Regions from separate parts of the Homo sapiens genome. Here regions 2, 3 and 4 are each linked to region 1. The links come from fine-mapping of genetic effects on gene expression. A gene starts in region 1. Each other region holds a variant in brackets. All regions are shown on one strand. Distances are from middle to middle. Region 1 holds the start of DRD4 (dopamine receptor D4). Region 2 overlaps PHRF1 (PHD and ring finger domains 1). Region 3 overlaps DEAF1 (DEAF1 transcription factor). Region 4 overlaps PHRF1 (PHD and ring finger domains 1).

Evidence for each region. PIP is the estimated chance that this variant, and not a neighbour inherited with it, causes the effect. A credible set is the group of variants that fine-mapping cannot tell apart.
Region 2: its variant is the best candidate, but not a certain one, in a credible set for the expression of DRD4 in subcutaneous fat (GTEx, PIP 0.57).
Region 3: its variant is the best candidate, but not a certain one, in a credible set for the expression of DRD4 in whole blood (INTERVAL, PIP 0.50).
Region 4: its variant is the best candidate, but not a certain one, in a credible set for the expression of DRD4 in prefrontal cortex (GTEx, PIP 0.79).

Annotation. Positions count from the first base shown.
Region 1 is chr11:633,075-641,206 of GRCh38, reverse strand. It overlaps DRD4 (dopamine receptor D4), which reads right to left and starts at 3,938. Exons shown (of 4, transcript NM_000797.4): 1 at 3,618-3,938; 2 at 1,662-1,774; 3 at 901-1,559; 4 at 501-806. The coding sequence starts at 3,902. The coding sequence ends at 604. RefSeq lists enhancers at 1,380-1,913, 1,914-2,448, 2,449-2,982, 2,983-3,517, 3,518-4,051 and 4 more.
Region 2 is chr11:579,386-587,517 of GRCh38, reverse strand. It overlaps PHRF1 (PHD and ring finger domains 1), which reads right to left. Exons shown (of 18, transcript NM_001286581.2): 2 at 5,912-6,026; 3 at 5,437-5,556; 4 at 54-259. The coding sequence starts at 6,005. Among named protein-coding and RNA genes, the nearest start is that of PHRF1, 7.0 kb to the right of the region's middle. RefSeq lists enhancers at 2,754-3,253, 3,254-3,755. The variant A/G (reference allele first, on the strand shown) is at 4,362.
Region 3 is chr11:665,708-673,839 of GRCh38, reverse strand. The region is part of intron 10 of DEAF1 (DEAF1 transcription factor); the gene reads left to right. Among named protein-coding and RNA genes, the nearest start is that of DEAF1, 25 kb to the left of the region's middle. The variant TC/C (reference allele first, on the strand shown) is at 3,758.
Region 4 is chr11:592,969-598,268 of GRCh38, reverse strand. PHRF1 (PHD and ring finger domains 1) reads right to left here. Exons shown (of 18, transcript NM_001286581.2): 7 at 1,249-1,346; 8 at 699-874. Among named protein-coding and RNA genes, the nearest start is that of PHRF1, 19 kb to the right of the region's middle. RefSeq lists an enhancer at 2,269-2,768. The variant T/A (reference allele first, on the strand shown) is at 3,101.

The DNA of each region.
Region 1 (8,132 bases):
GCTGTGGGGCTTGGGGCATCCTCTGGCCAGGGACTGGCAGGAAGCTAGGCTCTGGCCTCAAGGCAGCTTCTAAAATGACAGGTTGGGCTCCCCTGCCGGGGTCTGCTGGGGCAGCATGAGCCTGGAGCCCCCTGTGCCTGGTTCTCAGAGGTGGGAGTTGGCCCGGGCAGGGCCTGGCGGCTGACAGCCCCCCACCCCGCCTCTCCCCATTTGTTTCTTCCCATCGGAACTGGGCTTCCCCAGGAGACACCTTGCCCTGCTGGGTGCTGCTTCCTCTCCCCTGCAGAGAGGGGAAGCTGGGCCCCAGCGCTGCGGAACTGAGTGGCTCTCGGGGGCCCCTTCCCCCCTCACCCTGAGCAGGCGGCCGGCTTGGTGGGGTCTGCTCTGTGGGCTTCCTTGGCGGGGAGAAAGAGGTTAACTGGCTGGGGGGCCTGGGGCCACTGAGGCAGAAACCCCTCTTCCCCACTCCCCATCAGCCCCCAGGAGCCTTCACAGCTGAGTTTGGGAAGGAATTTGTTTAATTAACGTACAAAAGCGCCCTCCCCATCTCCTTGGTCCCTGAGGCCTGGCCATCAGGCCGGGGGGCGTCCGGGGGTGCCCGGCTCAGCAGCAGGCACGCAGGGCCTTGCGGAAGACGTTGCGGAACTCGGCGTTGAAGACAGTGTAGATGACGGGGTTGAGGGCGCTGTTGACGTAGCCCAGCCAGGTGACGGCGCTGACCAGCCGCGGGGGCACGGAGCAGGCAGGACACAGCGCCTGCGTGATGTGCACCACGAAGAAGGGCGTCCAGCACAGCAGGAAGGCCCCTGGGGGCGCCGAGAGCCGCGTTAGCGCCCCCCGCCCAGCCGGCCTCGTACCCCCCCCCTCCTCTCCTCCCCGCCCCTCAGGACAGGAACCCACCGACCACCACCGGCAGGACCCTCATGGCCTTGCGCTCCCGGCCGGTGATCTTGGCACGCCGCCTCCTGCGGGTCTGCGGTGGAGTCTGGGGTGGGAGCGCGGCGGCTCTGACGGCGTCGGGGGGAGCACAGTTGGAGCCGCAGGGGTCCGGGGGGAGGCCGGGCGCGGGGGGCGCACAGTCGGGGCCGCAGGGGTCCTGGGGGAGGCTGGGCGCGGCGGGCGCACAGTCGGGGCCGCAGGGACCCCGGGGAAGGCCGGGCGCGGGGGGCGCACAGTCGGGGCCGCAGGGGTCCTGGGGGAGGCGGGGCGCGGGTGGCGTGGGGGAAGGCGGGCCAGGGCCGCTGGGTCGGCGGGGCGCGCGGCCGTGCAGCTTGGCGCGACGTGCCACCTCCCAGCGCTGCAGGCCGCGGAACGTGGCCCAGTAGAGCAGCAGCATGAGCGGGCAGGGTAGGAAGAAGGAGCACACGGACGAGTAGACCACGTAGTCGCGGTCCTCCAGGCGGCACACGGCGGGGTCGCGGCCGCGCACGTCGTTGAGGCCGCACAGTACGGGCGCCGCCACCGCCGCGGACAGCAGCCACGTGGCGCCGATGAGCAGCAGCTGCCGGCGGCTCCCACCCTGCCGGTTGTAGCGCAGCGGCACGGCCACGGCCACGAACCTGCGGGGAGCGCCGAGGGGGCGCCGGACAGCGCACAGGCCGCGGTGAGGGCGGCGGGCGGGGCGCGGGGGCGCCGGGGCGCGGGCGGGGAGGGCGGCGCACCTGTCCACGCTGATGGCGCACAGGTTGAAGATGGAGGCGGTGCACAGCATGACGTCCATGGCCATGAGGGCGTCGCACAGGCGGGGGCTCAGCAGCCACGCGCCACCCTGGACCTGCGCGGCGACACCACAGGCCCTGAGGTTTCCCAGCCACCGCGGGCCCTTGTGACCCGCCCCCACTCTTATGGGTAGTTCCAGGGCTGAATACGGAGAAGGGGGCCCGGCTGTGAGCCAGAGGCCAGAGGACCGGGCAGGGAAACACCCCTTCCCCACGCAGATCTCCCTTTGTTTTGAGTTAGGGTCTCGCTGTGTCACCGCGGCTGGAGTGCTGTGGCTCCATCATGGCTCACTGTAGCCTGGAATTCCTGAGCTCAAGCGATCCTCCCACCTCAGTCTCCAGAGTAGCTGGGATTACAGCCGCGCGCCACCACCCCCGGCTGATTTGTTTTTCTTTTTGTTTTTTGAGACGGAGTTTCGCTCTTGTTGCCCAGGCTGGAGTGCAGTGGTGAGATCTCAACTCACTGCAACCTCCGCCTCCCAGGTTTAAGCGATTCTGCCGCCTCAGCTCCCCCGAATAGCTGGGACAACAGCCGCAGCCACCACCCCCGGCTGATATTTTAAAATTTTTTGTAGAGACCAGGCCTGGTATGTTTCCCAGGCTGGTCTCAAACTATCCTCCTGCCTTTGCCTCCCAAAGTCCTGGGATTACAGGCGTGAATCACGGCTTCTGGCCTTGGTCTCCCTTTTGTTACAAACATGAGAACGGCCTGGGGAATTCCCTGGGGGCGGGCCTGATATCATCGGGCTCAAAGGGAGCCCCTCCCCAGCCTGGGGTAGGCAGGGTCCCCGCTGGGCCTAGAAGCGAAGCTGGCTGCTCTGTTGGCTAAGTTCTCTGTGGGAGACTCGGGCACGTTAATTCATTTCTGTTTCTTCATCTGTAAGACAAGGGTGATGATAGTATCCACATCATAATTGTCTTGAAGATAAATTATAATTAAAAATATGAAGACCGTGCCCAGTGCCCAGCGTAGGACTCCACGTGGAGTGACTCTCTCCAAGGGCAAAGGAGCAGGCAGCCCCTCTAATCCTTCCCGCCGATTTGGGGAGATTAGGAGCTTAAACGTCGTCACTGTGACGTCTGCGGCTCGAAAGGAGCACAGGTCACGCGTGTCCCGTGCTGCTGGTCTCTGCCCCAGCCGCCTGGATTCACTGTGTCCATCAAGGGGAAACCTCGAGTCCCCCTCCCCCACAGTCGGGGACACCGCGTCTCCAGCTCAGCCCTAAGCTGCTTTTCTCTGGCCGCAGAGGGGCTGGCACCAAGGCCGACCCACTCGAGGGCCAGACCTGGTGTGGAGTGTGGGCTCCATCCCCCAATTCCCCCTCAGGCTTCCCCCCAGGGTTCTCAGCAGGGGCCTGGTCCCCACACACCCTCCCCTCCCCTGGGTTTTGTCCAGCCCAGGTCTCCCCTGCGAGCTGTGAGCCTCCTTCTGGGGGTGTGCCAGCATCTGCACTAGGTGTGTGTGGTGGGCAGTGGCTGTGGCAGTGTGTGTGTGTGTGTGTCCCACGGCAGCCAGGGGGCTGAGCCTGCATCTGCCTGTCTGTCCAGCTGGCTGCCCTGGAGGTGAAATCCAGCTACGGAGGGGACTGGGCTTGACAAAGTCGCCTGTTTCCGGGGTCCCTGGATAGAAGGACGGGCATCTCCTGGATAACAGACGCCAAGACAGACGGGGAAGGAGAAGAGGAACGAGGGTCGGGGGACAGACAGCGCAGCGGGTGGAAGGTCGCGAGGTGGCGGCGGTGGGTGTATCGCCGAGGGACAAGGCGCAGCGCCCCTGCCGCCGCCCCAGCTGGAAGCTCCGCACCAGAAAGGGGCCGGGTCGCGCCGGGTCCTCCGTAGGGACAGGGACGGGGAACCGAGGAGCAGGTGAGGATGCTCGTGCGGCCGGACGCGGCTCACCTCGGAGTAGACGAAGAGCGGCAGCACCAGGAGAGCGAGGAGGAGGTCGGCGGCCGCCAGGCTCACGATGAAGGAGTTGGTGGGCGTCTGCAGGGCGCGCTCGGTGGCCACGCTCACGCACACGAGCGAGTTCCCCGCGAGCACCGCGCCGATGAGCAGCACGCCCCCCACCAGCGCCGCCGCGCCCTGCCCAGCCAGCCCCGCAGATGCCCCCGCAGATGCCCCCGCGGCCGGCCCGCGCCCAGCCAGCAGCCCGTCCGCGTCCGCGGTGCTGCGGTTCCCCATGGCGCGCCCGGGCGGGCGCTGAGCACCGCGGACAACGCCGGGTCGCAAGCCGGGGAGTCCCTCCCCTCGGGCACGCCCCGGCCGGACCCTGGTCCCGCCCCCGACCCGCCCCGGCTCAGGGGGGCCCCCGCGGCGCTCCACCGTGAGCCCAGTATTTGCTCATCTTGGAATTTTGCGCAGGGAGAGACGGGCACGTGGACGAATGCGGCGGCCCAAAGAGACGGGAATGAAGCGAGGTGGTGGCCACGGGCAGGCCAGCATCGCCCGGCGCCGCGCGGGGTCCGCGACCCGAGAAACCGACAAGGATGGAGGGGCGGCCAGACCAGGCCCTGAAGCGCGCGGGCATCGACGCCAGCGCCATCCTACCCGGCCCGTGCGTGCGTCCCGGCCCTCGGGCGCTCACCCTAGTCCACCTGGTATCTGGCAAAACCTCCCTCCCAGGCCCGTTCCGCCAGACGCAGAAAGACCTGAGCTCAGGCTCTGCCCGCCTCCCCCGCGGACTCGCCTCGACCTCGTGCGCACCCTCCACGCCCGCTCCCCCTGCCCCCGACTCCGCGCCCGACTCAACCGCCGACGCCTAGCTCATCCCGCCGCCCCCCCCCCGCAGCCTCTGGCCCTCAGCCCCCGCGACCACCACGGTCAGCCGCGGCCCCACCCGTTGCACAGTTGATCCTCGCGTGGCCGCCTCCGAAACTGGGCGGACAGCTGAGCGGTCGACCCCGCTCCCTCCTCCATTCCCTCCGGCCCAAGACCGTGAGCTAGGTAGGCGCCCCTCTGACCCTGGGCAGGGGGTCCCGGGACCGGACAGTAGGTTCGGCTCGCGAGGAGGCCAGGAGAAAGACACGACAGGCCGGGGTAGGTTCCAAACGTGCAGAAGAGAAAGTGCTTGCAAAGCGCAGCAGAGAATTCTATGGACTCTTCACCAAAGAGGGGTGACCTGTGACCTGAGAGGTATTTTCTGTAGTCTGTCACTAAGGGGCCTAGAAGACACTAAAAGGGGGCACCACTCTGTGGGACCCCAGGCGGCGCACATCCTGATGCTCTAGTCTGTTTCTGGGAGGCCTGGAGTGGAGGGGCTGTGCCAGGAATTGAGGCCCCTGACCTCGAAGGTCTGGAGGACACGGGCTAGACGGAGGCGCTGACAGGGCGTGCGTTAAAGGGAGAAATGAGGACTCTGAGAAGGAGCAGGCACCGTGAGCCTCACAGGACAAGGTCACGGGGCTGCGGGGGAAGGGCCTGCACCAGGGACAGGTGTGCACAGGCATCAGGTGCGGCCGCAGCCAGGCTCAGTCCCTCTTGTGCAGATCAGTCTGCTGCCCTTGTGAACCCTTGAGCAAAAGAAGTCACCACAGGAGAGACCACCAGGGACAGGTGTGCACAGGCATCAGGTGCGGCCGCAGCCAGGCTCAGTCCCTCTTGTGCAGATCAGTCTGCTGCCCTTGTGAACCCTTGAGCAAAAGAAGTCACCACAGGAGAGACTGGGACAGTGGAAGTTTCTTCTCTCCCAGGATGGAACCGGGGAGGGTGGCCCTGGGGTCTCCGGCTGGGCGCCAAACGGCGAGTCCAGCCCAGCCTCTGGTCGGCTTAGAGTTCCTTCAAGTAGCCCCCAAGATGTCTGCGACCACCAAGAGTGAAAACCAAGCTAGGCGGAGAAAGGATGTGTGCAGCACACATCTCTGACACACAGATCCAGAAACAATGGAAACAATGAGAAAAGACAGACAACCCCAATTTGTTTTTTTTTTTTTTTTTTTTTTGAGATGGAGTTTCACTCTTATCACCCAGGCTGGAGTGCAGCAGCACAATCTTGGCTCACTGCAACCTCCGTCTCCCGGGTTCAAGCGATTCTCCTGCCTCAGCCTTCTGAGTAGCTGGGATTATAGGCGCCCGCCACCACGCCCGGCTAATTTTTTTGTATTTTTAGTAGAGACACGGTTTCATCATATTGGCCAGGCTGGTCTCGAACTCCTGACCTCAGGTGATCCACCTGCCTCAGCTTCCTAAAGTGCTGGGATTACAGCTGTGAGCCACTGCCCCCAGCCTCCACTAAACTTCTGTTGTTTATCTGAAAATCAAATGTAACTGGATGTGATCACATCTTACTGCAATCATGGCTCACTGCAGCCTCAATCTCCTGGGCTCAAGTGATCCTCTGGCCTCAGCCTCCTGTACAACTGAGACTACAGATGCGTGGTGCCACACCCAGCTAATTTTCTTATTTTTTGTAGAGACGGGGTCTCGCCATGTTAGCCCAGCCGGTCTCAAACTCCTGGGCTCAAATGATCCTCCCACTTCAGCCTCTCAAAGTGCTGTGATTACAGGCATGAGCCATACAGCCAGCCTAAACAATTTTTAATGAGGACCTCCACTCATACCTTACACATTAAAAAATTAACTCAAATATGCTGTCAGGAGAATCAAAAGACACAGACCAGGAAACGACATTTGCAAATGGCCACGTCTGGCAATGTTTCTTCCATTTTAGTGTAGTAGGACGTCGTTGATTTTCCTGATGGCTACTCATGTTTGACCACTTTTCCCATGTGCCTGTTAACTGTCAGCATGCCCTCTTCTGGAATGTGCCTGTTAAAAATCTTTGCTTTTGTTAAAAATTGGGTTGTCTACGCCAGGCGCAGTGGCTCACACCTGTAATCCCAGCACGTTGGGAGGCCGAGGCAGGTGGATCACCAGGTCAGGAGTTCAAGACCAGCCTGGCCAACATAGTGAAACCCCATCTCTACTAAAAATACAAATAATTGGCCAGGCGTGGTGACTCACGCCTGTAATCCCAGCACTTTGGGAGGCCGAGGCAGGCAGATCACAGGGTCAGGAGATCGAGACCATCCTGGCTAACACGGTGAAACCCTGTCTCTACTAAAAAATACAAAAAAATCAGCCGGGCGTGGTGGCGGGCACCTGTAATCCCAGCTACTGAGGAGGCTGAGGCAGGAGAATGGCATGAACCCGGGAGGCGGAGATTGCAGTGAGCCAAGATTGTGCCACTGCGCTCCAGCCTGGGTGACAGAGCAAGACTCCGTCTCAAAAAAAAAAAGCCGGGCGTGGTGGTGTGCACCTGTAATCCCAGCTGCTTGGCAGGCTGAGGAAGGAGAATCACTTGAACCCAGGAGGCAGAGGTTGCGGTGAGCGGAGATCACGTCATTGCACTCTGGCCTGGGAAACAGAGCAAGACTCTGTGTCAAAAAATAAATAAATAGGCTGGGCGAGGTGGCTCATGCCTGTAATCCCAGCACTTTGGGAGGCCGAGGCAGGCAGATCACGAAGTCAGGAAATCGAGACCATCCTGGCTAACACAGTGAAACCCTGTCTCTACTAAAAATACAAAAAATTAGCCAGGCGTGGTGGCGGGCACCTGTAGTCCCAGCTACTCGGGAGGCTGAGGCAAGGGAATGGCGTGAACCCGGGAGGCAGAGCTTGCAGTGAGCCAAGATCGCACCACTGCACTCCAGCGTGGGCGACAGAGCGAGACTCCGTCTCAAAATAAATAAATAAATAAATAAATAAATAAATAAATAATAAATTAAAATTAAAAAAGAAACAAATTTTTTTTAAAAATTAGCAATCATATATCCAGCAAATGGCTTGTATACAAAAAAGATTAATAATTCTCAAAACTCAACAGTAATGATATCACAAAAAGAAAATTCCAAATGAGTATCCTTTATGAATATAGATGCAAAAGTTCTCGAAAAAATATGAGCAAACACAGTCCCTTTTAAAGTGCTGCCTGCCAGAAAAGCAGCATTTTTTTTTTTTTTTTGAGATGGAGTCTCACTCTGTCACCCAGGCTGGAGTGCAGTGGTGTGATCTCGGCTCACCACAACCTCTGCCTCCCGGGTTCACGCTATTCTCCTGCCTCAGCCTCCTGAACAGCTGGGACTACAGGCACGTGCCACCATGCCCAGCTAATTTTGGTATTTTTAGTAGAGACAGGGTTTCACTCTGTTGGCCAGACTGGTCTCAAACTCCTGACCTCATGATCCGCCCACTTTGGCCTCCCAAAGTGCTGGGGTTACAGGCGTGAGCCAGTGCCTGGCCGAAAAACAGCATTTTTAAAAGGATTATGTACCATAACCCAGTGGGATTTATCCCAGGAATGCAAGGGTGAACGAACAGACGAAATTCAATGTCATACACCACATTAACAGAATGAAGAAAAACCCACGCGATCATCCCAACTGATGCAGAAAAAACCATTTCATAAAATTCAAA
Region 2 (8,132 bases), 54 kb after region 1:
AAACAGGGAGGCCATCCTGAAGGGAGGAAGCACCCAACCAGAGGTGAACTCACCTTGGACCATTCGACAATGCAGTCCAGGCAGAAGTAATGGGCACAGTTCTCCGGCGTCCCCACGGCCTGGTCTCTGAATGCGTTGAGACAGATTGGGCAGCTCTCTGCATCATCATCAGAATTGAAAGAGCCAGCGGCTTCCAGTTTCCCCTGAGTACCCGCTACCTCCAGCAATGTCTCCCCGTCGTCTTCAGAATCCTCGGAACCTGGAGAGGAAACATGCCAGCTGGTGCAAGCAGGATGGGCAGCGTGAACCGCGGCACTGGAGGCAAGCGGGCCCAGGCTGCGCTCAGGACACCAGGTCGGCAATGCACAGCCCACCTCCCCGCAGGCTCCTGCCACTTACCTCCACGTCCACGCTCAGCACATCCACAACCCTGGGAGCCCTGCCCTGCACCTAACCTGAAGCCTCGGGTGCCCTGCACCGAGGGGCGGGAAGCTGAGCGTCCTGAGTGCCAGACCAGCTCCTCTAAGCTGAGCCTGGGGCTGAGGCAGACCTCGAGAGGCAGGGCAGCCCTGGGGCCTAGCACAGGTCCCAGAGACCATCAGGTTCATTTCAGAGCCTCCAAGCGAGCCCCTCAGTGCAGCAGCCCCCTGACAGCAGCCCCCATTTCCAACGCCCCCTTCTCAAAGCATGAGGACCACAAACCCTCTGCCCGCGGAAGGGACTTCCTTCTGAGGTTGCCTGTTCCTCCTCCCTGTGGGAGGCAGAGCACAGACTCCTAACTGGGCCACTAACCACAACCGTTCTGGCCAATTCGGAGTGGTTCTGAGGCTACACCTTGACCAGCAGGGAGCAGGGAGATGCTCCGAGTTCAACACGGCAGAGCCCATACGTGCACTGCTATCTTCTTTGTACCAAACTCCAATGAAACAACGCTAAAGTAAACAGAACACAAGTTCACATGGGAAGAGGAGCAGACTCGGTGTGGGTGGCAGGTTCCTCCTAGGCCCGAAACCCTCCAAACCCTCCCGGTTCCACGCATGTGGGCAGGACCCTGCCAGCACTGGGGCATCACTGCCAGGACCCTCTGTTATCTGGCAAAGGGAAAGACACACCCAGAACAGAAATATTTACACTGTTAAAGAGGCTGGGAGAAGTGAGAGCTGCGAGGGAGGCAGCAGAAGAGTTTTAAGTTCCCATCTTTCATGTTAAGAGTTGAAGAGCTACTGGCCGGGCGTGGTGGCTCACGCCTGTAATCCCGGCATCTTTGGGAGGCTGAGGTGGGCAGATCACGAGGTCAGGAGATAGAGACCATCCTGGCTAACAGTGAAACCCCGTCTCTACTAAAAGTACAAAAAATTGCCAGGCGTGGTGGCTCAAGCCTGTAATCCTAGTACTTTGGGAGGCTGAGGCAGGTGGATCACCTGAGGTCAGGGGTTTGAGACCAGCCTGGCCAACATGGTGAAACCCCGTCTCTACAAAAAATACAAAAATAGCCGGGTGTGGTGGCGTGTGCCTGTAATCCCAGCTACTTGGGAGGCTGAGACAGGAGAATCGCTTGAACCTGGGAAGCAGAGGTTGCAGTGAGCCTAGACTGCACGATTGCACTCCAGCCTGGGCAACAGAGCAAGACTCCGTCTCAAAAATAAATAAATAAATAAATATACAAAAAATTAGCTGGACGCGGTGGCAGGTGCCTATAGTCCCAGCTACTTGGGAGGCTGAGGCAGGAGAATGGCGTGAACCTGGGACGCAGAGCTTGCAGTGAACTGAGATCGTGCTGCTGCACTCCAGCCTGGGCAACAGAGCGAGACTCGACCTCAAAAAAAAAAAAAAAAAAGAGTTGAAGAGCTACTACCTCAAGCTGGAAAGGGCTACTACCTCAAGCTGGAAAGGGCTACTACCTCAAGCTGGAAAGGGCTACTACCTCAAGCTGGAAAGGGCTACTACCTCAAGCTGGAAAGGGCTACTACCTCAAGCTGGAAAGGGCTACTACCTCAAGCTGGAAAGAGCTACTACCTCAAGCTGGAAAGGGCTACTACCTCAAGCTGGAAAGGGCTACTACCTCAAGCTGGAAAGGGCTACTACCTCAAGCTGGAAAGGGCTACTACCTCAAGCTGGAAAGGGCTACTACCTCAAGCTGGAAAGGGCTACTACCTCAAGCTGGAAAGGGCTACTACCTCAAGCTGGAAAGGGCTACTACCTCAAGCTGGAAAGGGCTACTACCTCAAGCTGGAAAGGGCTACTACCTCAAGCTGGAAAGGGCTACTACCTCAAGCTGGAAAGGGCTACTACCTCAAGCTGGAAAGGGCAGTGTAACAAGTGATTTCCAGCAGGAAACACCAGGGTGGGAAAAGCAATGAGAACGAAAGCTCCCAAGCCCCAGCAACGTGGGTGTTGCTCGTGGAATAACTCCCTCCTCAACATGTTTCCCACCAGTTAGGGACCCACTGGCTACTTCTTCATGTTTAAAAAACAGTCCTGGCCAGGCGCGGTGGCTCATGCCTGTCATCCCAGCACTTTGGGAGGCCAAGGCGGGTGGATCACCTGAGGTCAGGAGTTCAAGACCAGCCTGGCCAACATGGTGAAACCCCATCTCGAATAACAATACAAAAATTACCCAGGCATGGTGGTGCGCGCCTGTAATCCGAGCTACTCGAGAGGCTGAGGCAGGAGAATCGCTTGAACCCGGGAGGCAGAGGCTGCAGTGAGCCGAGATTGCGCCACTACACTCCAGCCTGGGCAACAAGAGTGAAACTCGGTCTCAAAAAAAAAAAAAAAAAAAAAAAAAGGTCCTGGAGAAATAAAAAGAAGTGTTCACAGTGGCTATACCAACACCTCTCCAGTGCCTTCCCATCCCCTTCCTTCGGGGCGCTCAGCCCTCAGGGGCTCCAGGTCTCCATAAACCTGTCTCTTCACAGCTCCCCCGTCCTGGCCTGCCGCCTCTGCCCAGCCACCTCCTCCTGCCCCTCAGGTGGCAGCTTGGATTCTCCAGAAGCCTCTCCCCACCCCAGGTCCATGGAGCCTGCCCCTCCCCTGGACGCCCACAGCTCTCAGTGTCTATGACCCTGTCCCCCAGCTGCTGCTTGGCGCACTGTTTGCTGCTAGAAGGTGAGCGCAGACACGGTGGGGGCCCTGCTGAGGCTCCCGCCACCTTCACTCCAGCCCCCAACCCAGAGTCTCTGGCATCCAATGTGCCCTCAGGATCTCAAGGACAGAGTCACCTGGCGGCCCTGACGGCCCACACTTTCAGCCCTGGCAACGCCAGAACTGGTGCGGAGACCTACTACAGATGAACCAGAGCCCTAACCTGATGCTGGGAGGGAGCAGGGAAGCCCCTCAGGACCTGCAGACCCAAGCAGACCCGCAGAGCACGTGCAGAGCTAAACATCGAACTCTGGAAGGACACGGCCAACACACATTGGCTCAGGCCATGAGTGCCATTCCCTTACCAACAGTCTCAAACAGGAGTGTTACCTTTCTGGAACATTCTAACCCTGATAACCACAGGGCTATGCAGAAAGACTGCTACACACAGATCACAGTAGCCACTTGAGGACCATGGATTTTCCAGCCCAAGGGTGATGTCAGAAGGAAAGTAGTGGAAAGGCAAAGTTCTGAGCCTGAGCTCGGCCTCCCTCTGAGGAAGCAACCACAGCAGGGCCGGGGCAGGGCCACCTCCTTGGTGGCCTCACAGGCTGTGCACCACCGAGGGTGATGGCAACAGGGGACAAGGAAGGAGGTACCACCAGCGCACCCCACGGACTTGTCTCCCCTTTGTTTTGTTTGAGATAACGTCTCGCTCCAACACCCAGGCTGGAATGCAGCCTCAACTTCCTGGGCTCAAGGGTCCTCCCACCTCAGCCTCCTGCGTAGCTGAGACCATGGGCCTGGGCCACCACACCCAGCGCAGACCTGCCCTTTGGAACATTGTTCTCTCAAAAGAAGTTCAAGGGCACAACCATCAGCCAATTGTAAGTGAGCTGAGAATTTTTTATCTTTTTGAGACAGAGTCTCGCTCTGTGGCCCAGGCTGGAGTGTGGTGGCGTGATCTCAGCTCGCTGTAGCCTCGACCTCTTGGGCTCAAGCGATCCTCCAACCTCAGCCTCCTGAGTAGTGGGGATTACAGGCACGCACCACCACGCCCGGCTAATTTTGGTGGGGTTTTTTTGTTTGTTTTTTTTGAGACAGAGTCTCGCTCTGTTGCCCAGGCTGGAGTGCAGTGGCGATCTTGGCTCACTGCAACCTCCGACTCCCGGGTTCCAGCAATTCTCCTGCCTCAGCCTCCCAAGTAGCTGGGATTACAGGCGCGTGCCAACACGACTGGCTAATTTTTCTATTTTTAGTAGAGACGGGGTTTCACC[A/G]TGTTAGCCACAATGGTCTCGATCTCCTGACCTCCTGATCCGCCCGCCTCGGCCTCCCAAAGTGCTGGGATTACAGGCGTGAGCCACCGCGCCCAGACAGCCAGAATTTCTTTTTCTTCCTTTGAGATGGAGTCTCGCTCTGTCGCTCAGGCTGGAGTACAATGGCACAATCTCGGCTCACTGCAACCTCCACCTCCTAGGTTCACACCATTCTCCTGCCTCAGCCTTCCGAGTAGCTGGGATTACAGGCGTCTACCACCACACCCGGCTAATTTTTTGTATTTGTAGTAGAGAGGGGGTTTCACTATGCTGGCCAGGCTCGTCTTGAAAAAAGGCCGGGCGCGGTGGCTCACGCCTGTAATCCCAGCACTTTGGGAGGCTGAGGTGGGCGGATCACGAGGTCAGGAGATCGAGACCATCCTGGCTAACGCGGTGAAACCCCATCTCTACTAAAAATACAAAAAATTAGCCAGGCTTGGTGGCGGGCGCCTGTAGTCCCAGCTACTCGGGAGGCTGAGGCAGGAGAATGGTGTGAACCCAGGAGGCAGAGCTTGCAGTGAGCCGAGATCGCGCCACTGCACTCAGCCTGGGCGACAGAGCGAGACTCCGTCTCAAAAAAGAAAAAAAAGGAGGACTACAGGCCAGGCACAGCGGCTCACTTGAGGTCAGGAAGAGTTCCAGACCAGATGGTGAAACCCCGTCTCTACTAAAGATACAAAAAGTAATTAGCCAAGTGTCATGGTGCGTGCCTGTAATCCCAGCTACTCACGAGGCTGAGCCAGGAGAATCACTTGAACCCGGGAGGCAGAAGTTGCAGTGAGCTGAGATGGCACCACTGTACTCCAGCCTGGGCAACAGAGCGACACCCTGTCTCAAAAAAAAAAAAAAAAAAGAAATGAAGTACTACAAATAAAGTGAGCCGTCACCACAGCTGAATATAAGGCCTCACCGTAGGTGACCGCAGGGACATGGCCAGCTGTGGTGACAGCACTCTCACGGAGGATGTGTTATAAAAGGCTGTCCCCATCACGACAAGAGGAAACACAGGAGCCGGCGTGAACACCAGCTGTCTCACCAGATCTGTCTTCCAGGTCTTCCTCCTCAGACGCCCCCTCGTCTTCTCCGTCTGTGCCATCTCCATGCTCGCTGTCACTGTCGTCCCCAGAGTCCCCACTGCTGCCCACGCTGCTTTCTTCTAGACACCAGGGTGAGACACAGGCCGCAGGGCGGCGTCAAGACCATGCAGCAGAGAGCAGGTTGCTTTGCACAGGCATAGAGGCGTCAGGAGCACCTGCCAAACGGCTAACGGCTTCCCCAGGGCCGGCAAGGTGGGGGCACAAGCAAGGAAAGGGAACATCCTTTCGTTCAACATTTGTGTTGTTTGCATTAAAAATAAAACAAAACAATACACTACTTCCGCAATTTAAAATCAAAGCATAATTTTTTTAGACTGAAAGTTGACAAGTGACACACACAGACGACCTCCAAAGGGAAACACCAGGCACCCTGCTCCTCCTGGGGACGCCCCTACCCGGCGCTAGGCAGCTCACCAAAGTCACCTGCCGGGTCCGCAGGGCCGACCTGTGGGTGTCCATCCGGCCCTGGGCTCCGGGCCACAAGCTCATCCAGGCTGTCGTCATCCATTGCTGCACATTGAGCTCAGCTCTGAAAGAAAGAAGAGCCAAGCAACTTCCAAACTGTCCCAGGCTGCAAAGAACCCTCTGAAGAGTTATGACCTCTCCCCACAGGCCACATCCCCGTGTCACATCCACCGCCACAGCACGTGAAGAGTGAGCCCTGAGATATCACCCACAGAACAACTCTCAGCAGTATCCCCACAGGCCACACCCCAGTGTCCCAGTGTCACATCCACCGCCACAGCACGTGAAGGGTGAGCCCTAAGATATCACCCACAGAACAACCCTCACCAGTAAGCCTTACACATGATTCACATTTACAGAGCTACCCATAAAGCCAGATCCTAGCTGGCCACTGTACCCGGCCAGAAAATAAAAATTTGTTTTTAACTAAAAAAAAAAAAAAAATTGGTCACGCCTGTAATCCCAGCACTTTGGGAGGCTGAGGCGGGCGGATCACCTGAGGTCGGGAGTTTGAGACCAGCCTGACCAACATGGAGAAACCCCATCTCTACTAAAAATATAAAATTAGGCCAGGCATAGCTGCTCACGCCTGTAACCCCAGCACTTTGAGAGGCCGAGGCAGGCGGATCACCTGAGGTCGGGAGTTTGAGACCAGCCTGGCCAGCATGATGAAACCCCGTCTCTACTAAAAATACAAAAATTAGCCAGGCGTGGTGGCGGGCGCCTGTAATCCCAGCTACTCGGGAAGCTGAGGCAGGAGAATCGCTTGCACCTGAGAGGCGGAGGTTGCAGTGAGCCGAGATCGCGCCACTGCACTCCAGCCTGCGCAATAAGAGCAAAACTCCATCTCAAAAAACTGCAATGCTCCTGAGGAATCGCAACACCATATACGAACAAAACGGCCTCATCCTGAGCTGAGGCAGAGCCGGGCTTTATCAGCTGGGCACAAGAGGGGCCTCAGTGACACGTAGGGTGCTCTCCCTGCCAAGGCTGGCCACTGTTGGGATGCCTGGAGGCTCCTCTGACCGCACCCCAACCCCATCCACCAGGGTGCTGCTGAGTCCCCAGTGGTACCCAGAGCTGAGGAGGCAGAAGGCACAGAGGCCAGGCCCACCCCTCGGCTCCCAAGACCACTTGCTCAAGGCCCTGACCCGTCAGCCGGGACCCCTGCCCTTCCCACTCTGCAAGGTCACTGTGAAACCACACAGGATCCCGTACAAAGCCTTGGGAAATCTAGTTGGACACGCTCCTCCTTCCACACCAGGGCCTCAAACTTTGGTCCCAGATAAGAAAGGAGATACGTGCACGTGGTTCATTTCTCATCAGTGCTATTGACCTTGTTTCCCAGGCGACTCTCGGAGGAAAGGCCTGTCCTAGGAGAGTGAGTCAGGAATCCAGCGAGGCAGTGAAGCCGGCCCTGCAGCACTCTGTTTCCCACCAAGTCCAACCTCCATCCATGATCAGAGGAAAGCGCATCGCACAAGAGGCCAGGAAGTAGGGGGCCAGAGCTGCCCTCGAGTTCAGGGCCTCCTTGCATTGGAGCTCAGCTCCCACCACCACTGTGGGCTGCACATGTACCACAGCAACGGGGGAAAGTGGCTGTCAGCGCCACTGCTGTCTGGAAACCCCTGGACAACAAACCCTAACGGGGCTCAGAAACCAGGACGGCCTCACTTCCCATCTGACAAGACAGTGCAAAACCCTAGATTCTAAGATGATGCCTTATAAAACAGTGAAGAATGTCAACTCCATCCAACTGTCAACTGCCAAATCTTACTACTGCCTGGAAACAGCGATTGTAGAAGTAGTTTTGCCAAATTAGTAATTAACCTTTCTTCTACCTGCCACCCTAAGGTGAAAACACCTGGTCATGATCCCCGCTCAAGGCAGTCTGCACCCCTGGTGCTTGGTGGACCCAGCAACTCCGCAGAGACGCCCTGCTCGTCCCGCACCTGAATCCTAGAGACACTGGCTCTGAGAGACACACGAGGGCCACGGCCCATCCAGGAGGGTGACCCCTCTCCCACAGCATGCACTGAGACCTAGCAGTGACCACAGCTCTCAGATAAGAGGACCTTAACTCCCTGGCAATAGCTGTGACCACCCTGACAACAGACCCCACATCTTCCAGGACGCCTGCTCCAACACCTACCCTGCTCCTACTTTGTGC
Region 3 (8,132 bases), 33 kb before region 1:
GTAAACTGGAGAGAGGGTGGAGGTTTCTCAGCTACTTCTCATAGCCCAAACCCAGCAGACAGGTACCGTGTGTCACAGGGCACGGGGACGAGAAGGTGAGAGAGGAGGGCGCCTGTCTGCTCAGCACAGATGGGGAGCTCTGAAGGCCACAGGAAAGGACAGGGATGGATTTTGTTGTAGCTGCTTTTTCGGGTACGGTAACGTGGACTTTGGTTTGTAAACAAAAGTCAAATTCATATTTTTCCCACCAAATCTATGTAAGAAACGTTTTCCCCCATTTCTTTTCTACTTTCTATTTTTATTTTTATTTGTGGAACAGGCTGTCACTCTGTCGCCCAGGCTAGAATGCAGTGGCACAATCTCGGCTCACTGCAACCTTTGCCTCCCGGGCTCCAGCGATTCTTGTGCCTCAGCCTCCCAAGTAGCTGGGACTACAGGCACCCACCACCACACCTGGCTAATTTTCTGTATTTTTGGTAGAGACGGGGTTTTACCATGTTGCCCAGGCTGATCTCACACTCCTGAGCTCAGGTGATCCACCCGCCTCAGCCTCTTAAAGTACTGGGATTGCAGATGTGAGCCACCATGCCCAGCTTCTACTTTTTATAGAAGAACTTTTTATTTATGTATTTATTTTATTATCATTATTTTTTTTTCAGCTGCTGCTTTATTTTACTTTATTTTATTTTTTGAGACGGAGTCTCGCTCCATCACCCAGGCTGGAGTGCAGTGGCACGATCTTGGCTAACTGCAACCTCCACTTCCTGGGATCAAGCAATTATCCTGCCTCAGCCTCCCAAGTAGCTGGGACTACAGGCGCCTGCTGCCATGCCTGGCTAATTTTTGTATTTTTAGTACAGACAGGGTTTCACCATGTTGGCCAGGCTGGTCTTAAACTCCTGACCTCAAGTGATCTACCCGCCTGAGCGTCTTAAAGTGCTGGGATTATACGTATTTATTTATTTATCTATTTAAAAAAAATTTTTTTTTTTGAGACGGAGTCTTGCTGTGTCGCTCAGGCTGGAGTGCAATGGCACAATCTCAGCTCACTGCAGCTTCCTCCTCCCGGGTTCAAGTGATTCTCCTGCCTCAGCCTCCGGAATAGCTGGGATTACAGGCATGTGCTACCACACCTGGCTGATTTTTTGTATTTTTAGTAGAGACGGGGTTTCACTATGTTAGCCAGGCTGGTCTTGAACCCCTGACCTCAGGTGATTCACCCACCTCAGTCTCCCAAAGTGCTGGGATTACAGGCATGAGCCACCTTGCCCGGCCTATTTATTTTTTAATTTTTAAATTTTTCTGTCATTCAGTGCACATCAGGTACTTGTTATAGATTCTACTAGACAAGCACATAACGAACAGTGATTATCATCCCAGGCCGTATTCAATGTTAGGGGTTTGTTACGGATTCTACTAGACAAGCACATAATGAACGGTGATTCTCAACCCAGGCCGTATTCAATGTTAGGGGTTTGTTACGGATTCTACTAGACAAGCACATAATGAACGGTGATTCTCAACCCAGGTCGTATTCGATGTTAGGGGTTTGTTACGGATTCTACTAGACAAGCACATAATGAACAGTGATTCTCAACCCAGGTCGTATTCGATGTTAGGGGTTTGTTACGGATTCTACCAGACAAGCACATAACAAACAGTGATTCTCATCCCAGGCCGTATTCTATGTTAGGGGTTTGTGTAGTTTCCCCAGGACCTGTAGTGGTGATTGTCCAGAAGCCTTCCATAGGAGGAATGCATGGTCATTAGGTATGCCACAGCTCCAAACACCAGCAACACCACTCAATGACTATTGAGGTAATGACAGTGACACTGCAGCTCCACATGGCTGGGGAGGTCTCACCATCATGGCAGATGGCAAAGCGGGAGGAAAGGCATGTCTTAATGGTGACAGGCGAGCAGAAGAGCTTTTTAGATTCTTAATTTTTTAAATGACTGATCAATATGTGATTAGTGTTTTTTGTGTTTCTTTTTTTTTTTTTTTTTTTTTTTAAGAGGTAAGGTCTCACTCTGTTGCCTAGGCTCATGGCTCATTGTAGGCTCAAACTCCTGGAAATACGGGTGCATGCCACCACGCTTGCCTAATTTATTTTTTTATTTTTTATTTTTTGTAGAGACTGGGTCTTGCCGTGTTGCCCAAGGTGGTCTCAAACTCCTGGGCTCAAGAGATCCTCCTGCCTCAGCCTCCCAAAGTGCTGAGATTACAGGCGTGAGCCACTGGACCCAGCATTAATTTTCTTTCAAGGAAGAAAAGTGTTTCTACTCCTGAAGACAAAGATAATTTTAAAATACTTTTTCACTGGGCACAGTGGATCACACTTGTAATCTCAGTGCTTTGAGAGGCTGAGGTGGGAGGATCTTTTGAGCCCAGGAGTTTGAGACCAGCTTGGACAACATGGTGAAACCCCGTCTCTACAAAAAAATATAAAAATTAGCTGGGTGTGGTGGTGGGCACCTGTAGTCTCAGCTACTTAGGAGGCTGAGGCAGGAGACTCACTTGAACCCAGGAGGCAGAGGTTGCAGTGAGCTGAGATCGGGCCACTGCACTCCAGTCTGGCGACAGAGCAAGACTCTGTCTCAAAAAACAAAAAGTCCAGGCGCGGTGGCTCACGCCTGTAATCCCAGCACTTTGGGAGGCCGAGGCGGGCGGATCACGAGGTCAGGAGATCGAGACCATCCTGGCTAACATGGTGAAACCCCATCTCTACTAAAAATACAAAAAATTAGCCGGGCGTGGTGGCGGGCGCCTGTAGTCCCAGCTCCTTGGGAGGCTGAGGCAGGAGAATGGCGTGAACCCGGGAGGTGGAGATTGCAGTGAGCCGAGATCGCGCCACTGCACTCCAGCCTGGGTGACAAAGTGAGACTCTGTCTCAAAAAAAAAAAAAAACATTAGCCAGGTGTGGTGACATGCCAGTCAAGAGGCTGAAACGTGAGGATTGCTTGAGCCTAGGAGGTTGATGTTGCAGTGAGCCGTGATCACACCACTGTACTCCAGCCTGGGCAACAGAGTGAGACCTCGTCTCAAAAAAAAAAAAAAAAAACAAAAACAAAAAGAAAAAAGAAATTAAAAAGGAAAAAAATAAAGAAAAAGATATATATATATTTTGAGATGGTCTTGCTGTGTCACCCAGGCTAGAGTGCAGTGGTGTGATCTCGGCTCACTGCAGCCTCCATCTCCCAGGTTCAAGCGATTCTTGTGCCTCAGCTTCCCAGATAGCTGGGATTACAGGTATGTGCAACCACGCCCAGCTATTTTTTGGTATTTTAGGAGAGAAGAGGTTTCGCCATGTTGGCGAGGCTGGTCTTAAACTCCAGGCCTCAAGTGATCTACTTGCCTTGGCCTCCCAAAGTGTTGGGATTACAGGTGTGAGCCACCGCACCTGGCCAAAAAAATACTTTAAAAAAAAAAAAAAAAAAGTATACTTCCAAACAAACAGCTACTTAATGCTGAAATTTATAGAGGAAAAGAAAGTTTAAAGGCAAAAAAATCTATAACCCTGCACCCAAAGATAATGACCGTGAACACTTACTGTGTGTCCTTTTGGTCTTTTTTGGTAATTGAGGTAAACTGTATGTACAGCAAAGTGCCTCAATCTCCACCATAAAATGTAGTGAGTTTTGATGAATGCATGAACCTGGTCATGAGACCATTTCAATCCCTGCAGAAGCACCACTCATGTCCCCTTCCATCGGTCCCCTGCCCCATGGACAGTCACTGCTCTCATTTTTTTTTTTT[TC/C]TTTTCTCTTTTGAGGCAGCATCTCACTCTGTCACTCAGGCTGGAGTGCAGTGGCATGATCTTGGTTCACTGCAGCCTTGCGCCACCATGCCTGGCTAATTTTTGTATTTTTTGTAAAGATGGGGTTTCTTTTTTTTTTTTTTTTTTTTTTTTTGAGACAGTCTCACACTGTCACCCAGGCTGGAGTACACTGATGCAATCTCGGCTCACTGTAGCCTTCGCCTCCCAGGTTTAAGTGATTCTCCTGCCTCAGCCTCCCGAATAGCTGGGATTACAGGCACATGCCACCATGCCCAGCTAATTTTTGTGTTTTAAGTAGAGACGAGGTTTCACCATGTTTGTCAGGCTGGTCTTGAACTCCTGACCTCAGGTGATCCTCCTGCCTCAGCCTCCCAAAGTGCTGGGATTACAGGCATGAGCCACCGCACCTGGCCTCTTTTTTTTTTGAGACAAGTTTCGCTCTTGTTGCCCAGGCTGGAATCCAATGGCACAATCTCGGCTCGCCATAACCTCCACCTCCCAGGTTCAAGAGAGTCTCCTGCTTCAGCCTCTCAAGTAGCTGAGATTACAGGCATGCGCCACCACGCCCAGCTAATTTTGTATTTTCAGTAGAGACAGGGTTTCACCATTTAGGTCAGGCTGGTCTTGAGCTCCTGACCTCAGGTGATCTGCCCACCTCGGCCTCCCAAAGTGCTGAGATGACAGGTGTGAGGTACTGCACCCAGTTGATTTTCTAGATTTCCTACCACAACTGATTTCTAATTCAACTCCAATATGCTTAGAAAATATACTCTGATTTCAGTTCTTTTAAATTGATTACGATTTATTTCGGCCAGGCATGGTGACTCACACCTGTAATCCCAGCACTTTGGGAGGCCAAGGTCTTGAGGCCAGGAGTTTGAGACAAGCCTGGACATTGTGAGACCCTGTCTGTACAAAAAAAAAAAAAAAAAAAAGGGTCGGGTGCAGTGGCTTACGCCTGTAATCCCAGCAGTTTGGGAGGCCGAGGCGGGCAGATCACAAGGTCAGGAGGTCGAGACCATCCTGGCTAACACAGTAAAACCCCGTCTCTACTAAAAATACAAAACATTAGCCAGGCATGGTGGCAGGCACCTATAGTCCCAGCTGCTCAGGAGGCTGAGGCAGGAGAATGGCATGAATCCAGGAGGCAGAGCTTGCAGTGAGCCGAGATTGCACCACTGCAGTCCAGCCTGGGCTACAGAGCGAGACTCTGTCTAAAAAAAAACAAAAAACTTTTTTTTTAAAGGGTTTCACTTTGTCACCCAGGCTGGAGTACAGAGGTGTGACCTCGGCTCACTGCAGCCTCAAGTTCCCAGGCTCAAGCAATCCTCTTGCCTCAGCCCCCCAAGTAGCTGGGACTATGGGCATGTGCCACCATGCTTGGCTAATTTTTGTATTTTTCATAGAGAGAGGGTCTCACTGTGTTGCCAGGCTGATCTCAAACTCCTGAGCTCAAGCCATCCACCCACCTCAGCTTCCCAAAGTGCTGGGATTACAGGCATGAACCACTGTGCCCGGCCAAAATGTTTCCTTCATTAGCCGGATCACTGGAGCCCAGGGGTAGAGGTTGCAGCGAGCTGTGATCACGCCACTGTGCTCCAGCCTGGGCAACAGAATGAGACCCTGTCTCAAAAAAACAAAAAGATGTGTTTTATGATCATGTATATACTTTTCGTGGTGAATATTGCATATACACTTGAAAAGAGTTTTATTCAGTCATTGGTTTTCGTTTTCTGTAATGTCATTAGGTCAAGGTGGTTCATAGTGTGGTCCAAATCTTGTTTTTCTTCAACCTAAAGATGTACTTTCAGCTTTTCTTTTCATATAGGTCTGTTGGCCATGAATTCTCTGTTTTTGTCTGTAATGTCCCTCTTTCACCTTTATTTTTGAGGGACGTTTTTGAGTGACATGGAATTCTGGGTTGTCACTTACATATATATATTTTTTTGAGACAGAGTCTCGCTCTTGTTTTCCAGGCTGGAGTGCAGTGGCACAATCTCCGCTCACTGCAACCTCCATTTCCCAGGTTTAAGCAATTCTCCTGCCTCAGCCTCCTGAGTAGCTGGGACTATCGGCGTGCGCCACCACACCCAGCTAATTTTTGTATTTTTGGTAGAGACGGGGTTTCGCCATGTTGCTCAGGCTGGTGTTGAACTCCTGGGCTCAAGTGATCCACCCGCCTGGGCCTCCCAAAGTGCTGGGATTACAGGCATGAGCTAACACGCCGGCCTATTTATTTATTTATTATTTTTTGAGACAAAGTCTCACTCTGTCACCAGGCTGGAGTGCAGTGATGCCATCTCGGTTCGCTGCAACCTCCGACTCCCTGGTTCAAGCGATTCTCCTGCCTCAGCCTCCTGAGTAGCTGGAATTACAGGCACACACCACCATGCCCAGCTAATTTTTTGTATTTTTTTATTAGAGACAGGGTTTTGCCATGTTGGCCAGACCGGTCTTGAACACCTGACCGACCTCAGGTGATTCACCTGCCTCGGCCTCCCAAAGTGCTGGGATTATAGGCATGACCTACCTGGGTTGTCACTTTTTATCATTCACCAGTTTAAAGATGTCTTTCCATCATCTTCTGGCCAGCCTGCCTACCTGCCTTCCTTCCTTCCTTCCTTCCTTTCCTCTTTTCCTCCTTCCCTCCTTCCCTCCCTCCCTCCCTCTCTCCTTCCTTCCTTCCTTCCTCCCTCCCTCCCTCCATCCCTCCCTTCCTTCCTTCTTTTTTCTTTCTTTTTTGAGACAGGGTCACTGTCTGTCACCGAGGCTAAGAAGCAGTGTTGTGGTCACATCTCAATGCAGCCTTGAGTTCCTGGGCTCAGGTGATCTTCCCTTAGCCTCCAGAGTAGCTAGGACTACCGGCACTGGCCACTACTCCCGGCCAATTTTTAGCTGGGGTTTCACCATGATGCCCAGGCTGGCCGCAAACTCCTTGGCTCAAGCGATCCTCTTACCTCAGCCTTCTGAGTAGCTGGGACTACACATGTGTACCACCATGCCCAGCTATTTTTTTGTTTGTTTTGTATAGATGGGGTTTCACTATGTTTCTCAGGCTGGTCTTGAACTCCTGGACTCAAGCAACCCACCTTCCTTGGCCTCCTAAAGTACTGGGATTACCAGCATGAACCACTGCTCCTGGCTATAACTATTTCTTTTTTTCTTTTTTTTTTTTTTTTTTTTTTTTGGAGACAGAGTCTTGCTCTCCAGGCTAGAGTGCAGTGACACGATCTCAGCTCACTGCAAGCTCTACCTCCCAGGTTCAAGCGATCTCTTGCCTCAGCCTTCCAAGTAGATGGGACTACAAGTGTGCACCACCACACCTGGCTAATACTTTGTTGTTTTGTTTTGTTTTGAGACGGAGTCTTGCTCTGTCGCCCAGGGTTGGAGTGCAGTGGCACGATCTCAGCTCACTGCAACCTCTGCCTCCCGGGTTCAAGTGATTCTCCTGCCTCAGCCTCCCGAGTAGCTGGGACTACAGGTGCATGCCACCACTCCTGGCTAATTTTCTGTATTTTTGGTAGAGAGGAGGTTTCACCATGTTAGCCAGGATGTTCACAATCTCCTAACCTCGTGATCTGCCCGCCTGGGATTACAGGTGTGAGCCACCGTGCCCAGCCTCAGGATCTGCTTCTTTTGGCTACTTTTTCCCTTCATCATGGATCCTGTTATCCCTTCTTCACACGTCCAGTACTTCCTGATTGTGTGTTGGAATTTTAGTTTATATACTGTTTATATGGTAGAGTTTATATGGTAGAGACTCTGAATTTTGTTGGATTCTGTTGTCTTCCCCTGAAGAGTGTTGGGCTTTGTTCTCGCAGGCTGAATTCTTATGGATCACCCTGAAGAGGATCAGTGTTGATGCTGTTAGGGCAGGTCTGTCTGGCTTTTTCTTCTGCCTGACACATCCTTAGTCTTGGATCTGCGAAGCTGTGGTTTTCTGGATGTTCCTGGGAAGTCCGTGGTGTTTTTAAGCCTCTAACTTGTGAAGGTTCAAACTCCAGACTTTCAGGTGGTGAGCAGCAGCCGCAGTCTCTGCTCAGTGTTCTCGGTCTTCAGCCGTCCATTTCTGCTGAGTCTTCCCCACATGCTGTGTCATCAGCTCAGGGTCAAACAAGGACGTGGGGAGCGTTTATGTGCTGGATGGGAGTGTCCTCTCTCTGTGCTTGCTCCTTTCTAGGGTTTCTCCCCTCATTTTCCAGCCACTTTGTCAGCTCTGGCCAGGGTGACTGCAGCCTGCTACCACGGTGTGGCCGCCCATGTCTGGTGGCCTGGGGCTGCCTCCAGGAGAAGCCTTCCTGGCTCCATCTCCCTGCTACGTCACCTGTCCCTGCTATGTCACCTGGCTGCCTC
Region 4 (5,300 bases), 42 kb after region 1:
AGCAGGACAGCCTCCCCACCCGCCACTGCAGCAGCCACGGCCCGGCCTTCCTCTCCCCTGCCAGAGGCTGCCAAGCACTCCCACGGGGGCAAGGCGGGTGGGGGACAGACAGCATCCCAGGGGCACACGAGAGGGCACCAGTCACTGTGGCGGGGGTGGCGCAGGTACTGGGCAGGGCACTGGACAGGGACAGCCCCCTCCCCACCCAGCCTTCTCAGTCCACTCCAAATTCAGCGTTAGGCTTGCCAAGGGCACACACCACATGCCCACAGCCCAGACCCTCCTGCTTGTCCAATGCCCAGGGAAAGGCTGCTGTCAGGACGGAGGCTGCAGGGAGCACCTGAAACCGAGCACCAGGTCCAGTGCAAGAGGAAGGTGCTCACAGGTGCCTAGAGGGAGCGGTGCTGGCATGGGGCCTGGGGAACAAGGGGGGTTTCCTAGAGCCCCCACCCCGCCAGGGCCAGGCTTCACCTGCCCCTCAATACCTGGCTCCAGGTGCTCAGAGGCAGCCCCACCTTGGGCCGCTGGGGTCACCCTGGGGTGCACTCATCTGCTCCCCTCAGCAGGCCGAACAACATGAGCCACCGGGGCCGGGCGGACCCCACAGTGCCGACGACGCCCCTCCCACCCACCCAGACTGCCGAGATCACTCTGGGCAGCTGGGGTTCTACGACTGGCGTCAGGGCTGGGCCACCCACCTGGACCCTCCTGGCCGTGGAGATCCGGTTCCGGTTCACGGTTGCTCTCACTCTCTCACTCTGCCGTGTCCTGGCTATCGCCCGGGTCCTACCTGCTCGAGGCCGAAGCCTGCTGGTGGTGGGCACCACATCAGCCAAGAGCAGGGAGACCTCCTCCTCACTCACGGGACCCGCATCTGGGAAGAACCACCAGGGCTGATGTGCCACACTCACAGGCCACACGCCTCCCCCAACGGCTCCCCCTGTGGCTGCCGGCCAAGTAGCAGCCCTGGCTCGGGCTGACCTGTGCACAGGACCCAGGGCTGCTCATGGAGCCTGGTGCTCCTAACACTGAGGACCGGAACCCCCCAGCCAATGGACCCCACACACATCCCCGAGAAGACGAGCCCGAGACAGCCCTAGATGTCCTCCCGACACCGCAGCCAACCCTAACCCCCATGAGACAGCCCTAGATGTCCTCCCCACACAGCAGCCAAACCTAACCCCGGGGACCGCAGAGTGGACAGTGAGAAGGCCCATGTGCGCCTTGGGACGGGAGCAGTGTCCTTACCAGCGGCAAGGACAACACCAGGCGCAGCACATTCCGGGCAGAACCACTCGTCCACCGGCACCTCCTGGAGAGGGGGGTCCAAGCATTCCATGTGGTACCTACAGGAGAGAGCAGGGCCAAAGCATCCGGGTGCTGCTCACAGCTTTCCCAAACCTCCTCAAGTGAGGGGACCACAAAGCAGGCCTCCGATGGCACCCAAGTCTGCGATGCATTCTGTTATGGGCTGACCCACATCCCTCCAAAATTCATAAGAAGCCCTAACCCCCAATGTGACAGCAGATAGACATGGAACCTTTAAGGTTATAGGATTGGTGTCCTTAGATGAGGGAAGGCCAGGTGAGGTCACAGCGGGGAGGCGGCCGTCTGTAAGTCAGGAAGGGGGCCTCCCCAGGAACCAGGCCTGCTGGTATCTCAGATGTCTAGTTTCCAAAACCAAGAAAAGGAAGACCTGCGGTTTACGCTGCCCAGCCTGTGGTATCCTGACAGCAACTGAGCTGGCTGCGACACACGACACACACCCACAGGCCGACAGTGGCTCACACTGAGCTCCTGCGGTAGGTGCTGCCTGTGGGGCCCCCTTCCCAGAGAGCTTGTCTCCCCCACCCTCACTCCCGGGTTTTCAAACATTGCACCTCACACCAAGCCACTGAAGAAGGCGAAGGTTTCTTTGCTGAAAGGAAACTATGTTTTAATTGTTTCTATCGAGCCTTCTGGGAAGGTAGTTTGGGAAGTGCTGCCACTGGTATGAGGTATATGTGCCCCTCCAAGCAGCCGAGGCTCGGGAGTCTATGCAAAGATCCTTGAAACTTCATCCCAAAGACCCCAGACAGCCCTGAGTAAGGCAAAAACAATCAAGGGAAGGGAGTCAAGCTGATGATTTCCCTGAAAATTGAGCCTGAATTCAACTGAACTTAACTACCACTTACCACGGGCTGAACTGTTCTAGGATCTAAGATACGAGTTAAACAAGAGTAAACCCATTCTCCCAAGAGTCCTGCACCTATGAGAAGGTGTCTGCTGTGTGGCCCTTGCTAGGGCCATACAAGAAAGACAGGAGACAGGCATGCAGGAAGAGAAGCCGACTGCCCCGGGCACACGACACGCCCTGCCAGGCCAGCAGAGGGGGGCGGCGGGTGGGGGCACTCCAAGAGCCTAACTAGGTCCCCTAACATCTGTTCTTATACAAGTTCTCTGGGGACAAAGGCAAGGATGAGCAGTACCTTCTTTCAAAGAATTCCAAAGTCTGAAAACGTCCAACCCACTTTCCCACCACTGAGCTCCAGCAGCCTTGGAGGAGGCTGCGGCTCACCTGAGGCCCGAGCAGAAGGCCCCTCTGCGCCTGGCAGGCGCCCATCCACAGCCAGGCCAGGCCTGTGTCCCCCACACTCATCCCCGAGAAGAGGAGATTGGCTGCAAGTTTAAATACGAGCACGGGGACAAGGAGGGCTGCCGAGACCTGCCCAGCTACGGTGCAGGCACCCATGGCTCCACCTGCACAGGGAGCTTGGTGGCCCTGCAGCTGAAGGTGCTCAGATCTGACCTGCCCAGGGAGGGGAGGGCCACACCTAACAGGCCTCAGTGAGCCCCTGCACTGCCTCCCTGGTGAACACACACTTTTAAATTAGATTGTAACTTAAAAAAGAAAAAAATCAGAAACTGTATCTTATTTCATGTAATGTCAGTGTATCTACAGATAGTGTTTTTTTGTTTTTTGTTTTTAGTCTCTCTGGAGTGCAGTGGCGCAATCTCGGCTCACTGCAACCTCCGCCTCCCAGGTTCAAGGTATTCGCGTGCCTCAGCCTCCCAAGGATCGGGGGTTACAGGTGTGAACCACCACGCCCGGCCAATTTTT[T/A]TATTTTTAGTAGAGACGGGGTTTCGCCATGTTGGCCAGGCTGGTCTCGAACTCCTGAGCTCAGGTGATCCACCCGCCTCGGCCTACTGTGATTCCATTTTGACATGAGGAACTGAGTAATTTTAGACGTGTGATTTTTAAGTCAGACTTAACTGAAAATTTGGCAGACTGCAAATTGTAACAGTATGGAAATGTTTAGAAGTATGAGAATCGTTATATTGATCAGTTTTAATGTTTTAGATCCACCAGGGTTTTTATGTACTTGCGTTGTTTTATCTGCCAAGTAATTCAAGTAGTGTAGGTAGAAAGAAAATCAATATATCAAGTTTGTAAATGTAATTTATAATAAAAAATTTTAATTAAGCTGTAAACATTCCCAAGAGCCTTGTTAGAAGGTACTACAACTAGGTTGGGCATAGTGGCTCACGCCTTTAATCTCAGCACTTTGGGAGGCCGAGGTGGGCGGATCAATTGAGCCCAGGAGTTCCACACCAGTCTGGCCAACATGGTGAAACCCCGTTTCTCCATAAAATACAAAAATTAGCCAGGTGTGGTGGCATGTGCCTGTAATCCCAGCTACTGAGGAGGCTGAGGCAGGACAGTCACTTGAACCTTGAACCGAGGTTGCAGTGACTCGCTGCAGAGGTTGCAGTGACTCGCTGCAGAGGTTGCAGTGAGCCAAGATGGCGCCACTGCACTCCAGCCTGGATGACGGACCAAGACTCTGCCTTGAAAAAAATAAGTAAATGAGTAAAATAAAAGCTAACAGGAAAACCAGGCTTTGTGCGTGAAAACTGGCCTACCAGCTGCCCTCGAGCCACTAGAAGGCTCACGGCCCTGGCCTGCGATGAGGGCCTTGCCCAAGACGGTGCCTGTGGCGACCAGGACCAGGTCTATCATGCCATGGTCTCTCAGGCCGTGTCCAGCGATTCCAGGCCAGCCCAGGCCCTTCCTTCACATGCCCAGAGTGGCCGCAGCCACAGGTAAAGAGGACAAAAGAGGACCAGTCCTACACATGGGCATGGAGTGCTGAGCCACCCCTCCACCTTTTTTTTTCTTTTTAAGCATTCTGCATATATTCACGGTGTAAGTCAGTAATCAACAGCCAATAAGCACTGTGCCCAGGGCTGCAATGACCAGGCTGCTGGGATAGTCAAGGCAGCAGCCCTGCCCTTCAGACTCACAGCAACCAACTCAGTGCCTGCCGGGGCAACTGGCAGCAGACGCTCCCAGGAACCCTGAGGAGGTGAGGACCGTCAGGGCAGAGCACTCAGGAAACTCACAAAACATGGATTTAGGCTCAGACTCGTGAGAAAGGAGGGACGGCGAGGTGTCTGCGAATGTGAGCAGAGGCGTGGCTATCTCCCGGCTGCTGGGAGCAGAGGGCAGGACCAAGCAGGGGCTGGGGACCTGGAAGGGCCGGCGGAGCGCACTGCAAGGCCCCTGTACTCCCACAGGCCATGAGGAGGAGGGCGAACTGACGATGAGACAAACGTGGTGGCCGCCTGCAGGACCCCCAAGGAGGCCCCTGCAGTGTCTGCAAAAGGACAGCCAGCGATTCCTGCACCAACAACAGCGTGAGTGGAGCAGAGGCCTGGGTATGTGGCTAACAACGAGGTGACAGGTGGGGGCACAAGCGGCTGTGCTCAAGGACGAGTCAAAGCTGGGACGACCGGGACCACCCGCCACAGAGCAAAGGCCTTCACCAGGAGCCCATCCTCGGTGCGGCTCCAGCCGCGGCACGTCAAGGCCTCCTGGCTCCGGCTGTTCCGTAGTCCAAACCCTGACCCAGCTACTTCCCACCCAAGAGAAGGCCCCAGATCGAGCAGCCTCACTGGTTCTTTCAACAAGGGAAAGATTTCCAGAATCCTCTCTCCATAATTTCACAGCAGAAAAATTATTCAAATCAACAGGGAAAGCCCCTCGCAGGAGGCTAACGGGGAAGGGGGCATCTGCTTACAGCCAACGACACAAAGCAGGGATGAGGAGACAAGTGTCACAGGCTCCCGGGAAGCCAGGGCCACGCAGGGCCAGAGCAGGCGCTCTCAGCTGTGCCAGGGAGAGCAGCAGGTGCAGCATAACTGGACATGCACCAGAGGGTGAAGGAGGAGCAGGGTGAAAGGTGAGGGACCAAGGCAGCCAGAATGATGGACGCAGGCATAGCCACCCCTCCCCCACAAAGGCCGGGACCAGGACACGT